Homo sapiens: one gene and its partners. The protein of the gene in region 1 purifies or fractionates together with the protein of each later gene. This does not show direct contact. Each region holds a gene or a part of one and is shown in the gene's direction. Other genes may lie near its edges.

Evidence for each region.
Region 2: the proteins of MPST (region 1) and C1orf198 fractionate together in Homo sapiens (co-fractionation; one large-scale study listed by BioGRID). This does not show direct contact.
Region 3: the proteins of MPST (region 1) and PEDS1 fractionate together in Homo sapiens (co-fractionation; one large-scale study listed by BioGRID). This does not show direct contact.
Region 4: the proteins of MPST (region 1) and ACO2 fractionate together in Homo sapiens (co-fractionation; one large-scale study listed by BioGRID). This does not show direct contact.

The regions. Positions count from the first base shown.
Region 1 is NC_000022.11:37,026,242-37,029,741, forward strand, and holds part of MPST (3-mercaptopyruvate sulfurtransferase), read left to right. Parts: intron 1-757; coding exon of another isoform or gene 758-816; exon of another isoform or gene 817-858; intron 859-2,974; coding exon 2,975-3,273; 3' UTR 3,274-3,500. UniProt on the Homo sapiens protein: Transfer of a sulfur ion to cyanide or to other thiol compounds. Also has weak rhodanese activity. Detoxifies cyanide and is required for thiosulfate biosynthesis. Acts as an antioxidant.
Region 2 is NC_000001.11:230,865,722-230,869,983, reverse strand, and holds the start of C1orf198 (uncharacterized protein C1orf198), read left to right. Parts: upstream 1-1,462; 5' UTR 1,463-1,471; coding exon 1,472-1,804; exon of another isoform or gene 1,805-2,180; coding exon of another isoform or gene 2,181-2,186; intron 2,187-4,262.
Region 3 is NC_000020.11:50,147,224-50,150,723, reverse strand, and holds part of PEDS1 (plasmanylethanolamine desaturase 1), read left to right. Parts: intron 1-3,500. UniProt on the Homo sapiens protein: Plasmanylethanolamine desaturase involved in plasmalogen biogenesis in the endoplasmic reticulum membrane.
Region 4 is NC_000022.11:41,475,617-41,479,116, forward strand, and holds part of ACO2 (aconitate hydratase, mitochondrial precursor), read left to right. Parts: intron 1-3,500. UniProt on the Homo sapiens protein: Catalyzes the isomerization of citrate to isocitrate via cis-aconitate.

The DNA.
Region 1 (3,500 bases):
GGTCATCTAATGTCTCTGAACTGCAGCTTCTGCCTATGTAGAATGGGAGCAGTAACACAGAGCATAAAGACATGATAGGGGCAAGGAGAGCAAGTGTGTAAAGCACTCAGCTCCGGGTTTTCATGCACAAGTGTGCTGCACACTTGTGCCTGACACTTATTCAGTCGCACTAGCTCATCTATAGAATGGGAGGTGATACACGCCTAGCAGGCTTGTTGTCAAAACAAACTAAGCTCACTGCAGCTGGATCAGTGATGAATGTCACTGTCGTCATCATTCCCACTCCACAGCCTGAGGCCTGGCCAAGTGCTCCTGTGATGTGCCACACCAGTCCAGCAGGCAGGGGAAACATGCTTTGCTTGGTGGGATTCAAGGTGTAGGGATGGCCCTCCCTTTACAGTCACCACCCTGGGTTGAGAGTTTGTTCCTCCTCCTTGCTCTGGGCTGGTCTCTATGTGATATCTGACCAAGCCCGGTAACTGTGTCTGTTAGGTGGGATGCATGACCCATTCCAGCCTCTCCACAGACTCGGGAGTGCTGTCTCTATGCCAGGGTCTGAGAATAGATACCGATACATGGGTCAGCAGCTCCTGTGGGGGTGTCACTCCACTGCGGAGGGAAACCAAGGCAGAAGCTGGACAAGAGTCTGAATGGCTCAGATTTGAATCATTCGTTTTTGGGGGGTTTTTTGTTTGTGTTTGTTTCTGTTGTTGTTGTTGTTATTGTTTTGAGACGGAGTTTTGCTCTTGTTTCCCAGCTGGAGTACAGTGGCGCAATCTCGGCTCACCACAACCTCCGCCTCCCGGGTTCAAGTGATTCTCCTGCCTTAGCCTCCCGAGTAGCTGGGATTACAGGCATGTGCCACCACGCCCGGCTAATGTTTGTATTATTAGTAGAGACGGGGTTTCTCCATGTTGGTCAGGCTGGTCTCGAACTCCCAACCTCAGGTAATCTGCCCCCCTCGGCCTCCCAAAGTGCTGGGATTACAGGCGTGAGCCACCGTGCCCAGCCCAAGCGTTAGTTGTGAAGGTTTATTTTGTTGCAAATCCCAGTCCTGCATGAAAATGGGAATGTTAGTAACCCCTGCCTCAAGGTGGGGCAGTGAAAACAAAAAACACCCTGGGAGTCTGCAGAGGTGTGGGCCTTTCCCATCCCATTCTTTCTGCTACAATCAAAATGATCGTTTAAAAATGGAAATCTAGGTTGGGCAAGGTAACTCCTACCTATAATCCTCACACTTTGGAAGGCTGAGGTGGGAGGATCCCTTGAGCCCAGGAGTTCAAGACCATCCTGGACATGATGGCAAGCCCCTTCTCAATAAAAAAAATTAAAAGTAACAGTAAAAAAGTAAACGCAGAAGCCTGAGTTCCCCCTGCAGTCAGGTCAAAGCCCCCAAGTCTTACTCCAGGCCTGCTAAGGCGTTCCCATCCCCTTCAGCTTCCCCTTTGGGCCTCTGGCTTCTCACTGTCTGGGCTTTCGTGACAATGACCTTTAACCCCTCCGGGCAACAGGTGGTTCCCTCGCCTTTCAGATTCCCTCTGCCTGGGATGCTCTAGGCCTCCATCCACCCAGACCCCTTTATGTGACTGAATCCTACTCATCCTTCGGGGCATTCTCAGAGAAACTTCCTCCACCCACTGAGCCCCCAGCCAGTGTGGCGTGAAGGTGGGAAGCATAGACTTGCCTGGGTTTACTCCTCCCTGCCCTCTGCTAGCTTGCACAAGCTAGTCTTTGTACTTCATTCTCTTCATCTTTACAAAAGAGAGGATAATAATTTCTTTCCCAGAGAATTTTGGGGTGGATTCAAGGAGAAAGTATAGCTGACCGTCTCCAAACAGTGCCTGGCAGAAAGTAAGCATTCAATAACATCAGCTATTGGCCAGGCAAGGTGGCTTACTCCTATATTCCCAGCACTTTGGGAAGCTGAGGCAGAAGGATTACTTGAGGCCAGGAATTCAAGACCATCCTGAGCCACATACTGAGACCCCATGTCTATAAAAACCAAATTAGGCCAGGCGTGGTGGTTCACACCTGTAATCCCAGCACTTTGGGAGGCCAAGGCAGGTGGATCATCTGAGGTCAGGAGTTCGAGACCACCCTGGCCAATATGGTGAAACCCCGTCTCTACTAAAAATACAAAAATTAGCCAGGTGTGATGGGTGCCTGTAATCCCAGCTACTCAGGAGGCTGAGGCAGGAGAATCACTTGAACCCAGGAGGTGGAGGTTGCAGTAAGCCAAGATCATGCCACTGCACTCCAGCCTGGGCAACAAGAGCAAAACTCCATCTCAAAAAAAAAAAAAAGAACAAAAAAAGGAAATTAGCTGAGCATGGTGGCATGTGCCTGTAGTAGTCCCAGCCCCTCGGGGGGAAGCTGAGGCAGGAGGATTGCTTGAGCCCAGGAGGTTGAGGCTGCAGTGAGCCTTGATCATGCCACTGCACTTCAGCCTGGGCAACAGAATGAGACCCTGTCTCAGTAATAATAATATCAGCTATTGCTGTTACTGGCGTTATTTTTTTTTTACATGCCCCAGGCCACCCAGTAGGGCACTTTTGGAACACCCATTATGCTTGTAATTATTCAGTTGCCTGTCTGCCCTGCCAGATTAAAGCTCCTTGCCTGCAGGTACTGCACGTTCTAGCTAGGCAGGGGTCTTGTTTATTGCTTTGCTGTCCCTAGGGTGCATAGTCAGGAAACCTTGGGGCCCAGTTCTTAGGTTCAAAGTTCAGTCAGCAATTTGCTAGATGTGTTAGCCTCAGGTGGTACTTAACCTCAGCATCACCGTGTATAAAATGGGGGCTCCTCTAAACAGTGCTCAGGTTTTATGGTTGTGAGAATTAAATGAGATGGTGGATATAAAGGATTTAGCACCATGCTTGCATGGGATGCTCTCAATATCTCGAGCACCACAAATACGAGGTACCATTCATAGCATCCTTCTATTTGTCCCCTCCTCCCTGCTCCCCTGCTGTAGGCATTGAACCTGGCCACATCCCAGGTACCGTGAACATCCCCTTCACAGACTTCCTGAGCCAGGAGGGGCTGGAGAAGAGCCCTGAGGAGATCCGCCATCTGTTCCAGGAGAAGAAAGTGGACCTGTCTAAGCCACTGGTGGCCACGTGTGGCTCTGGCGTCACAGCCTGCCACGTGGCACTAGGGGCCTACCTCTGCGGCAAGCCAGACGTGCCCATCTACGATGGCTCCTGGGTGGAGTGGTACATGCGCGCCCGGCCCGAGGATGTCATCTCAGAGGGCCGGGGGAAGACCCACTGAAGCTGGGCAGGACACAGGCGAGCTCAGGTGATGCCGGCCACCAGCAATGCCTGGCCTGGTAGCTCCGCTTCTGCTTTCACCAAGAGAGTGTTTCTTCACTCAACTCAGGTGGCATTTGGGGTGACATCTCAAAGGCCAGGAATTCCGTTGACTTGTTGGCTGCCAGTAGGGGCGGGAGGAAAGGCGGAGGCGAGCCCTGGAGGAGGGAGGCCACAACTCCGAGCTGC
Region 2 (4,262 bases), on another chromosome or scaffold:
TATCAAAGCAAGCCTGGGGATGTTAATTAATTTCAAGAATATATCTTTAAACATTACCTATATTATTAAACAAGGATTAGAGGAGAGAAATCAGTGGGATTCAGGTCAATGTATTGAGCTTCTCTAGCATCAACTCAAACAGAAGATCATACTCCAAAAAACTGTCCTTAAACTTCCGGTCTCATAAATAATCCGCCACTTACTGTGGAGACTATATTTGGTGGTGCTTGCCTTTCCCTGCTTCAATATATTATGTTGTGAACATTGTTGATAATAATGTCTTTAACTGTAGAGCCTGCCACATTCATGACATTCCAAAAATATTCTGAGGATTTCTGGGCCGGAAGATGAGGCCATCTCACATTTAAAATAGGACTTTGCAAGTTATTTCTACTTTTGTGTTCAGAACTATCCAGGCAAAGACCCTGGATAACAGCTGAAATGCTGGTTTTTGTTTTTGTTTTTTTATTTTACGAGTGGACACAATTCTCACCTGAGTCCTGTTAGTCTTGTTAAAATCAGTCAGATGGAGAGAGGGGCTTGGGGGAAGTGGGGGCTCGCTATAATTTTAATTTTGTGGTCTGTCTGGGACACACCTCAAAATTACAAACCCTGGCCCCCTACCTGTTGGGATGTCGCCTCTGAGTCTGAAAACTTTCTGCTCCTCTTTGGTTTGTTTGCAAACGTCGAACTGCCAAGAGTTCTGAGCTCCTTGGGTTGGGGAAAGGCACCTGGGCCACCGGGTACTTCATGCACCCACCTGGCCCCGAGGGGCGGCGGGAGCTGACTTTCCTTGAGCACCAGATGCCCCGAACCGGTCCAGCCTTCCAGGTCGCCCTCCAGCCTCCGGGCTGCCCTGCGCCCCCGGCTATCTGCAGCTCACCGCGCCAGGCCCCGGGCCCAGCGTCCTGGACGGGCCCAGAGAAAGCAGAGAAGGTGTGGCTCGTCCCAGAAAGGGACAGAAGGAAAGGAGTAAAAACAGAAGCCAGGCAGCCAGCGGCTTGGCCTGAAATGCTGGGGCTTTCTTAGGCTCACTGGAGGTTGAAAAAAGTTTCCTTTGTCAAGCAGTGGCCACGTGGCGCTATGGCGGTCACTACCGGGAATTAACCACGGCCACCCTCTCAGAGCGCCGGGCGCGGACTCAGGGACACGCCGGCTACCACCTGAGCCGGGTAAGGGGAGCCCGAAACCTGCGGGCACCGCGGTAATCCACTATGGAGGCGTAAAGGGGGACTCGTGGGGTCCGCGAGGGGGTGGCGGGGGGGGGCCCGGAGGGAGGAGCTCCCGGGGAGGGGGCCACGGAGGGCCGGGGTCCCGGGGCTTGGGGAGCTGGGTTGGCTTGGAGACCCGGGTACGCGGCGGTGCAGGGCGGGGTTCCCGGAGGGGGCGGGGCTCCGGGTGGCGCGGGGCGGGGCGAGGGCGGGCACAGCGAGGGGCGGGGCGCGGGCCGGGAGCGGCGGGCAGGCCGGGCATGGCGTCCATGGCGGCGGCGATCGCGGCTTCGCGCTCGGCGGTCATGAGCGGGAACCGGCCTCTGGACGACCGGGAGCGAAAGCGCTTCACTTACTTCTCGTCGCTGAGCCCCATGGCCAGGAAGATCATGCAGGACAAGGAGAAGATCCGCGAGAAGTACGGGCCCGAGTGGGCGCGGCTGCCGCCCGCGCAGCAGGACGAGATCATCGACCGGTGCCTGGTGGGGCCGCGCGCCCCGGCGCCCCGAGACCCCGGGGACTCGGAGGAGCTCACGCGCTTCCCCGGCTTGCGCGGGCCCACGGGCCAGAAGGTGGTGCGCTTCGGGGACGAGGTAGGTGCGGGCCTGGCCGCGGACCCTCTTCCCCTCCCGGCGCCCCGAGGCGCCCCGGCCCGGTGGGCACCTGCCGGCGTGAGGCCGCCCCAGCTGGTAGGGGCTGGAAAAGAAAAGGCAGGAATGGCAGTGGGTGGGAGGGGAGCCCCAGAGCCGAAGTTCGGGGGGTGGGGGCTCCGCTGGGGGAGTTGGTTAAGAGATCGCCGAGAGGTGGGTCGTTAAAGAACCTCCATCTAGACCTGATCCGCCGGCTCGCACGGACTCCAGAGACTTCTCCCGGAGCTGTCGTAAGCGAGGCTGACCAAAGTGGAAACAACAAGCAATTTTAAACCAGACAAGCCTGGGTTTTAATCCAGCTCTGCTACTTACTACCTGTATGGCGGTGGGTCAATTAACTTCTTAGAGCCTCAGTTTCCACTGTGTAAAACGGGGGTAATAACGCCACCCCGTGCCTGCCCGTGAAGGGACTGAGCAAATGATATATACTAACATGAATACTTGTGATGAGATGTATGGGGAAAGTAAAATTGCCAAGCCAGGTAACAAGGAAGAAAAGGTGTCTTCCAAGATAAGGAGGGAAACCCATCCATCACCCTAAGATGTTTTCCAAGTGAGCACAATGCCCAGCGTATGTTTTAAGGGTGAGCATGGTGGCCCTGTTTTCCACCAAAAAACTAAGGGACGATAAGTTTAAATGAGCTCCAGTAAGTCTTGGCCACATAACAGGGCATGTTTAGGTCTCAGATCTAGACACTGTCCAGACTGCTAGAGGGACAGTCATTTGTGAAGGTAGAAACGCTGAATCTGTTCCAGAAAAAGCTCAGGGATGACCCACACTTAGTCACAAACGCCTGAATCTTCTGTAGGGTTCAGAAACTTGGTCTTCTTTTTCTTAGAAATGTGTTTAACCGAAGCCTGTTTGGTGCCATTAGAATTTGCACTGTGACTCTTTGGCGTTTCAAACTCAACTTTTGCCGTGAGGAGCAAAGTCAAGCTGAGCAAAGAGTGTAGGAATGAAATCGCTCGCTGTTAAGGCTGTTTCTTGGGCTAGAGGAAGGAGAAGCTGGGAGAGATTTTTTCCGAGGAAGTTGTGGATTGTGGATGGAATTCAAGTTAAGGAGGTTTAGATCAGATTTTCAGGCTTGGGTGTGCTGAGACATTTATTAATACGAAGTGTTCATGGTCATAAACCCACTTTAATGTGAGGGAAAAGTGAAATGACTGAAGGATGCTGCCAGTGTTTCTTTATTCTGATGGAATCAAAAGGAAATTCTCTACTGGACTTCAAATTCTGATGGCTTTGCCAGGAAAAACAAGGGTGTGGTAAACTGGGGAGGGGAAAATATAGGTTTTAAAATGTATTCCTAGAGCTGAAACATTTTCAGTGGGAAAATAGGCGTATTTATAAAGACTTGTGTGCAGTGTTTGCGCCCAGATTTGGGGGATGAAAAAGCAGGCAGCACTCCTTTGGAAGAGTCACGAATAAATATGACAGGAAGTAAACTTCTAAGTACTTACAAATGTTGGAGAGTGACTGTCATTTTCCCTTAGCTTGGTGTCCAGCTAAGAATATCTACACGCCTACTCATGATGAAAAAGCCCATGTCATAGAAGAGCCCAGTATTACTGACAAGGAAGAATGTGGCCAAGTTAATTTTTTATTCTCATTCCTCATCTGGTGCCAGACTGAGCCGTTTCTGAATTTGTAAACTCAATGTGATTTAAAAGCAAGTGGAACTGTGCCGTGCTGTGGTGCCTGTATGTCCTTCCAGGAGTAACTCAGGAGAATTGAATCTCAGCTTTGCAAAACCAGCTGAGAGCATGTTCTGAAATGCCTCTGACCAGCCTCAGCTCAGACAGCAGAGGGGCAGATAGACCCTGAATTTTAACAGAGGTACATAGGAACATGGCCCAGGGTACATTTTTGCCTGCAGTGTCTGCGTAGGTTAATAGCAGTAGGGAATTTAAATTCCCCTGGACTGCGCCAGAGGTAGGCACCAAAGTGGAGTCAGTTGTCTCATTGTTGTCCCCAGGAGATCATTCATGGAGGAGGGCCAGCTCCTGGGCACAGGGATGATGGATAAGGACAGGATAGGCTGCTGAACAGAGGTACCCCCAAATAGGTGACCCCAAGTTTGTCCTAAAGGACTGTAAACTAGATAGAGTGGGGCCCAATGTCTCTTCCCACTTGATCAGTCTTCTGATGTGGTCCTGGGGCCTCCACAGCCCTTTCCGCTGCCCTGAAGGACACTGCCTATTTCTTTGAATGGTATCCTCTCCCCCATTGCCAGTAATGTTTTTCTATCTCACATAGCAACGTTTTAAGTCAGAGCATGCAAATACAGCCTCCAAATGTGGTGATCATCTTCTAGACATTTCTTGTGTATTGCAGGAACAAATAGAAATTGATTATATGATGCTGATCACAGATCTTGGTGGTTTTGAATGTGGTCAGGGG
Region 3 (3,500 bases), on another chromosome or scaffold:
GAGACTCTGTCTCAAAAAAAAAGAAAAAGAAAAAAACGGAGCTGGCATTTTAGTAAATAGCCGGGCCATAAACTTGACAAATAACTGTCTCACGTGCCCAGTGGTGGCAAGCGCTGTGGAGCAAATACATAGCAGGAGAGGGGGATCTGAAATGTTGGGGACAGGAATGACATTTTAGGGAGGGGGCAGTGAAGGCTTCCCTGAGCAGGTGACATTCGAAGTGAGGCCTGAAGGGAGGAAGGACTGGAGGGAGGGAGCCTTGAGGATATTTGAAGAAGGGTTGGTCCAGACCAGGGAAACAACAAATGCAGAGACCCTGAGGTGGGAGCTTGCCAGGCATGTTTAGGGAATATGGAGGACACATGTAGGCTGGAGGGAAGAGTAGAAGAAGTTCCTGGGTTCTAGGAGCAGAATGTTTGAGATTACTGGGGCTGGAGGTGGTTTGGCACTGTGACAGTTGACAGCCATAATCATGGCAATCAACATAGCCGAGTGATTGAGCCTCACTGTGCTGGCATTTTCCTCACCTGCTCTCCGTGCATCCCCACTACAACCGTGTGAGCTGTACCTTGATATTAACTGCATTCACAGAGGAGGAGGCTGCAACCCCTCCCAACCCCCACCCCAGGCATGCTCTTCCTAAAGCTCACCCTGATCGGGGTTAGGCCCGCATCTGCCCTCACCTGATGGGAAGGCCAGCAGGACAGGGACTGAACCTATTTGGTTTGATTAAAGTGCTTGGCCCCTCATGAGCACCCAGTCCACTTTTGTTGGAACATTTCCTGAGGCTTAGAAAATGGGAGAGGCTGCCTGAGGTCATACGGCGGGGCACCGGGCAGCAGTAGGGCTAGGCCTGGAACCCGGGACTGGGCCGGGTGGGGGTGCGCTAGGTTCTGTGTTCTTACTCTTCACTATGGAAGTCAGCCAGCCAGGGGTGAGTGTGTGGGAGGTGGGGGCGAGTATTCCGGATCATCAGAACAGCATGTGTGCAGGGCAGGTGGCAGAGAATGGGCCTCTGTGTGTAGGGAGCTGTGAGTAGTTGGACCAGAGCAGCATGGGGCTGAGGGAATGGTGACAGGTGCAGCAGGGAGGCGGCCACAGCCTGATTTCGCAGGCCCCAAGTGTCTGGCCCAGAGGTTGAGCCCTGGTCCTGCAGGACCCAGGAGCCGTTCTGTCCTGTTCTGGGCTGAGTTTCCCAGCAGCAGCCCACCTCATGCCAGATGTCAGGGTTTGTGAAGGGCCTGGCCAGCTTGGCAGGCCAGAGGGTGAGGCGGGTGTCCAGCTTCCCAGGAGGTCCCAGCTGAAATCTGGCCATGTGTGTGCTACTTCTCAGGTGCCCCAGGCTTCATGGGTGCAGCCTCACGGTCCTTGATCCACCTGTACCCCACCCAGGCCAACTGTGGGTGCCCCCTGCCCTGGGGATTACAGAGGCTCTTGGCACAGGGGGAAGGGAAAGGTGGAGGGTGTCAGGAGTACTGGGTGAGAGTCCTGGCCTGTACTCCCAAAGCTGAACCCAGGGGTTCAGTCCCCCAGATGGGCTTTCTGTTTTTTGCTCCTTTTGTCTCTGTTTCTCATCTTTGTTTCTTTCGGTTTTTTTGTTTGTTTGTTTTTGAGACAAGGTTTTGCTCTGTTACCTAGGCTGGAGTGTGATGGAGCGATTGCAGCTCACTGCAACCCAAAACTTCTGAGCTCAAATGATCCTCCCGCCTCAGCCTCCAAAGTGCCGAGATTGCAGGTGTGAGCCACCACGCCCAGCTAATTTTTATTTTTATTTTTGTAGAGGCAGGATCTAGTTATGTTGCCCAGGCTGGTCTCCAACTCCTGACCTCAAGTGATCCTCCTACCTTTGCCTCCTAAAGTGCTGGGATTACAGGCATGAGCCGCGGCACTCAGCCTGTTTCTCATCTTCCCATGGCTCTGATTCCTTATTTGTCTCTCATCTCTTATTTGTCCCTCTGTCCATCTCTCATCCCCACCTTCTCTCTACCTCTTGTCCCCCATCTCCCTGAGGCTGAGGGTCTGCTGGAGGCCAGGGGTCCTCAGAAGTCCAGCTTATTTGGGGCTTGTCTCTGCCTGGAACCAGAAGAGTTGGGCCCACCAAGCCTTTGACTGCAGCCTGTCCCCTGGAAAGCAGGATGACAAAGGCATGACCCCAGGCCTCCCCTGCTCTTCCTAGCTCCCCATACCTACCACACGAGGCCAGCCCCTTCCTCAGGCCAATAAGTGGCTACTGCTTTTGGCTCAGATCTTCAAACCCTGCCAAGCCAGGGGCTGGCTCTGATAGCAGGACCTCAGCACTACAGCCAGAAGACAGCCCGGGCCTCCTGTGTCCTGAGCAGCCACCCTCCCTGTCCCCACCTCAGTCTGCTCATCTGTTAAGTGATACAGTTTAGGCCAGTTGACCCCACAGGCCCTGCCAGGCTGATGATCCATGCTGTGACTTTGGTGACCCTCAAGTGACTTTGGACAAGTGCCTTGACCTCTCCAGGCCCAGCTTCTCTCTCTGAAGGATGGGACAGAGGGTCCCTAGCTCCAGGAGGTGGTGAGGGGTGCTGAGATCATCTTAGCCCTGTATCTGGCATGTTCCAGTTGCTCAGTGAAAGCTACTTAAGTTGTGTATGTTTTCTCCCCCTGGAGACGGAGTCTTGCTCTGTCGCCCAGGCTGGAGTACAGTGGCACGATCTCGGCTCACTGCAACCTCTGCCTCCTGGGTTCACGTGATTCTCCTGCCTCAGCCTCCCGAGTAGCTAGGAGATTACAGGTGCACCCTCCCGAGTAGCTAGGAGATTACAGGTGCACACCACCACACCTGGCTAATTTTTGTATTCTTAGAGACGGGGTTTCACCATGTTCATGTTAGCCAGGCTGATCTCGAACTCTTGACCTCGTGATCTGCCCACCTCGGCCTCCCAAAATGCTGGGATTACAGGCATGAGCCACCACACCCGGCCATTGTGTATGCATTCTTTATGGATGAGAATTAAGGTATTTGGTCTGCAGAAGGATCCAGCTTCCAGAGGCCAAAGAGAGATGGAGTTTAGATGGAAAAATATTCAGATTTGGAGGACGTTCTCCATGGCGTGGGGAGAGAGCTGGATCATCTTTGGTTTCAGGACTGCCCCGAACGTCCAGGCTAACATGTCTCATTGATGTGTCTGGGATCCAAACCCAGCTCTGAACCTCAGTTTCCTTGTCTAGGAAATGAGATCACTCAGTTCCTTCCTTGACGGGCTGATACTTGAATGAGAGACTGTGCCTCAGACTCAAAAACTCAGATGACTGCAGGGGCCCAGCCAGGGCTGCCACCAAATCTGGCCACCCAGTGTGAGACCCCAGGGAAGGGAGAGGACCAGGGTGAACCTGGAGCTCATATCCCATTGGATGGGGGCAGCTATTACTTATTGTTTAGGCCTAGGGTGGCCAGAGCCCTGTGTTGTTGAGGGAAGCAGGAAACTAGGAATTTTACGTGATTTTCAAATTTAGCTCACTTTTTAAAACTG
Region 4 (3,500 bases), 4.4 Mb from region 1:
GGACGTGGTGGCTCACGCCTGTAATCCCAGCACTTTGGGAGGCTGAGGTGGGTGGATCACAAGCTCAGGAGTTCGAGACCAGCCTGGCCAATATGGTGAAACCCCATCTTTACTAAAAATACAAAAAAAAAATTAGCCAGTCGTGGTGGCGCATGCCTGTGATCCCAGCTACTCAGGAGGCTGAGGCAGGAGAATCAGCTGAACCCAGGAGGTGGAGGTTGCAGTGAGCCGAGATCGCGCCACTGCACTCCAGCCTGGGCAACAGGGTGAAACTCTGTCTCAAAAAAAAAAAAAAAAGCAGCAGATGGACCCTCAGGAGCCTTAGGAGACTTCTGCCACTGGCTTACTGGGTAGCTTCGGGCAAAGTCTCAACTCTCTGTGGTCCTGCAGTTAGTTACACATCTGCAAAACAGTGTAATTAATAACTACCCTTCAGTTAAGAAGGGTTCTGAAGGCCTAATATTTGAAAAGTTGTTTTGACTCTGTTTGATGTGTTATAAAGCATTGTGAGCCGGGTGTGGTGCCTCATGCCTGTAATCCCAGCACTTTGGGAGCCCAAGGCAGGTGGATCACCTGAGGTCAGGAGCTCAAGACCAGCCTGACCAACATGGTGAAACCCCGTCTGTACTTAAAATACAAAATTAGTCAGGTGTGGTGGCGCATGCCTGTAATCTCAGTTACTTTGTGGGCTAAGACAGGAGAATCGTTTGAACCTGGGAGGCGGAGGTTGTACTGAGTTAAGATTGTGCCATTGCACTCCAGCCTGGGCAACAAGAATGAAACTCTGTCTTAAAAAAAAAAAAAAAAAAGGCCAGACGCAGTGGCTCACACCTGTAATCCCAGCATTTTGGGAGGCCAAGGCAGGCAGATCACCTGAGGTCAGGAGTTTGAGACCAGCCTGACCAACATGGTGAAACTCCATCTCTACTAAAAATAGAAAAAAATTAGCTGGGTGTGTGGGTGGTCGCCTGTAGACCCAGCTACTCGGGAGGCTGAGGTACGAGAATCGCTTGAACCTGGGAGGCAGAGCTTGCAATGAGCCGAGATTGCGCCACTGTACTCCAGCTTGGGCAACAGAGCGAGACTCTGTCTCAAAAACAAAACAAAACAAAAAAACAAAAAAACACACACACTGCAAATAGTTTCTGATATTATTTTAGGAATAGGCCATTTCTAAGATTGAGAGTAGGGACAGATTTTCCCCTTGTAGAATATCTTCATTTTGGAAGTCTTGAAAGGTAGGGAGAATGGGCCAGGCATGGTAGCTCACGGCTGTAATCCCAGGACTTTGGGAGGCCGAGGTGGGTGGATCACTTGGGGTCAGGAGTTCAAGACCAGCCTGGCCAACATGGTGAAACTCTGTCTCTACTAAAATACAAAAAATTAACTGGGCATGGTGGCGTGTACCTGTAATCCCATTTACTTGGGAGACTGAGGCAGGAGAATCAGGTTCAAGCGAGTCTCCTGCCTCAGCCTCCCAAGTAAATTAAAGGTAGGGAGAATGGTTTCCATATTATTTATTTATTTATTTATTTATTTATTTATTTATTTTTTTGAGACGGAGTCTGGCTCTGTCTCCCAGGCTGGAGTGCAGTGGCGCGATCTCCACTCAGTTCAAGCTCCGCCTCCCGGGTTCACGCCATTCTCCTGCCTCAGCCTCCTGCGTAGCTGGGACTACAGGCACCCGCCACCACGCCCAGCTAATTTTTTGTATTTTTTTTTTTAGTAGAGATGGGGTTTCACGGTGTTAGCCAGGATGGTCTCAATCTCCTGACCTTGTGATCCACCTGCCTCGGCCTCCCAAAGTGCTGGGATTACAGGCGTGAGCCACCGCACCCGACCTCTTTAGTTTTATTCTGCAGCACCTGGGCCAGAGGAAGGGGCACCAGCTTTGGAGCCAGGCCTGGAATTCCACCTTGCTGCGTGACCCTGGGCAAAACAGTTAGCATTCCAGAGCTTCAGTTTCCTCATCCATTAAATGGGCACAATGCCTTCTGCCTCACAGGGTAGTCGTGGGATTGTGTGGATAAAGTACTTGGGGCAAATCCAGTGCAGGGTAGAGGCACTTGGTGAATATTCATTTCTGTCTCCAGCCCCTGCAGATGGCCCGCGGCATCCATCACCCCAGCCTTTATCCTTAGCTCATACGTTTAAAAAAGACCAGTTGTGGCCGGGCACAGTGGCTCACGCCTGTAATCCCAGCACTTTGGGAGGCCGAGATGGGTGGATCACGAGGTCAGGAGTTTGAGAACAGTGTGGCCAATGTAGTGAAACCCCGTCTCTACTAAAAATACAGATATGAGCCGGGCATGGTGGTGTGCGCCTGTAGTCCCAGCTACTTGGGAGGCTGAGGCAGAAGAATCGCTTGAACTCAGGAAGCAGAGGATGCAGTGAGCCGAGATCACGCTGCTGCACTCCAGCCTGGGCAACAGAGCGAGACTCTGTCTCAAAAAAAAAACCAAACCAGTTGTGAAAATTGCTTGTTCCTCCCATCATCTCCCCAGATAGCAGGTAAGTGGTAGTTGTTCAAGGAAACCTTTTTTTCAAGATAGAGTCTCGCTCTGTTGCTCAGTCTGGATGCAGTGGCATGATCTCACTGCAACCTCCACCTCCTGGGTTCAAGCAGTTCTTTTGCCCCAGCCTCCCAAGTAGCTGGGATCACAGGCACGCACCACCATGCCCAGCTAATTTTTGTATTTTTTGTTTTAGTAGAGACAGGGTCTCACCCTGTTGGCAAAGCTGGTCTCCAACTCCTGACCTCAAGTGGTCCAGCTGCCCCAGCTTCCCAAAATATTGAGATTACAGGCGTGAGCCACTGCGCCTGGCCAAGAAAACCCTTTCAATACTGTTTTAAAAGAGTTGGGGGAAGAGGTAGAAATGAATCTTTTGGTTTAGTTTTTTAATTCTCTAAGGACAACATTGGGGAAGTGAGCTTTAGAGTTATATTTGCAGTATTTATTTTTATCATGAAATATTCAAGTCTAGGCCCTTGGTGAATTGAGGCCTGGTGAGTATTTCTGCTTTCCCCCTGGAGAGATTGAGATGGTTTCTGATTGGGAGCTTTAATTCTGTGGGCATTTGTGGGACTTACCAAAGAGGTATCTAGAGTTCCTTTAAAACCCCCGCCCTGTCCCTGCCACATATCTTCTTTTTTTTTTTTTTTTTTTTGAGAAGGAGTCTCACTCTGTAGCCCAAGCTGGAGTGCAGTGAGTGACACGATCTCTGCTCACTGCAACCTTTGCCTCTGGGGCTCAAGCAATTCTCCTGCCTCAGCCTCCCAAGTAGCTGGGACCAGAGGCATGCGCCACCACACCTGGTTAATTTTCTTGTATGCCACACTTCTTTAGTTCCTTGTAGCCGGGCTCCTTGACCTTCTGCAGGGCATCTGTGGTTGTGGTATTTATAAGCACTCACTGTGTCATGAGTGTGTTCACAGAGCTCTAAGACAAGGGCCCTGTCTGTGGAAGAGCTTTTAGGGTGGTGAGGGAGAAGTCATCTAA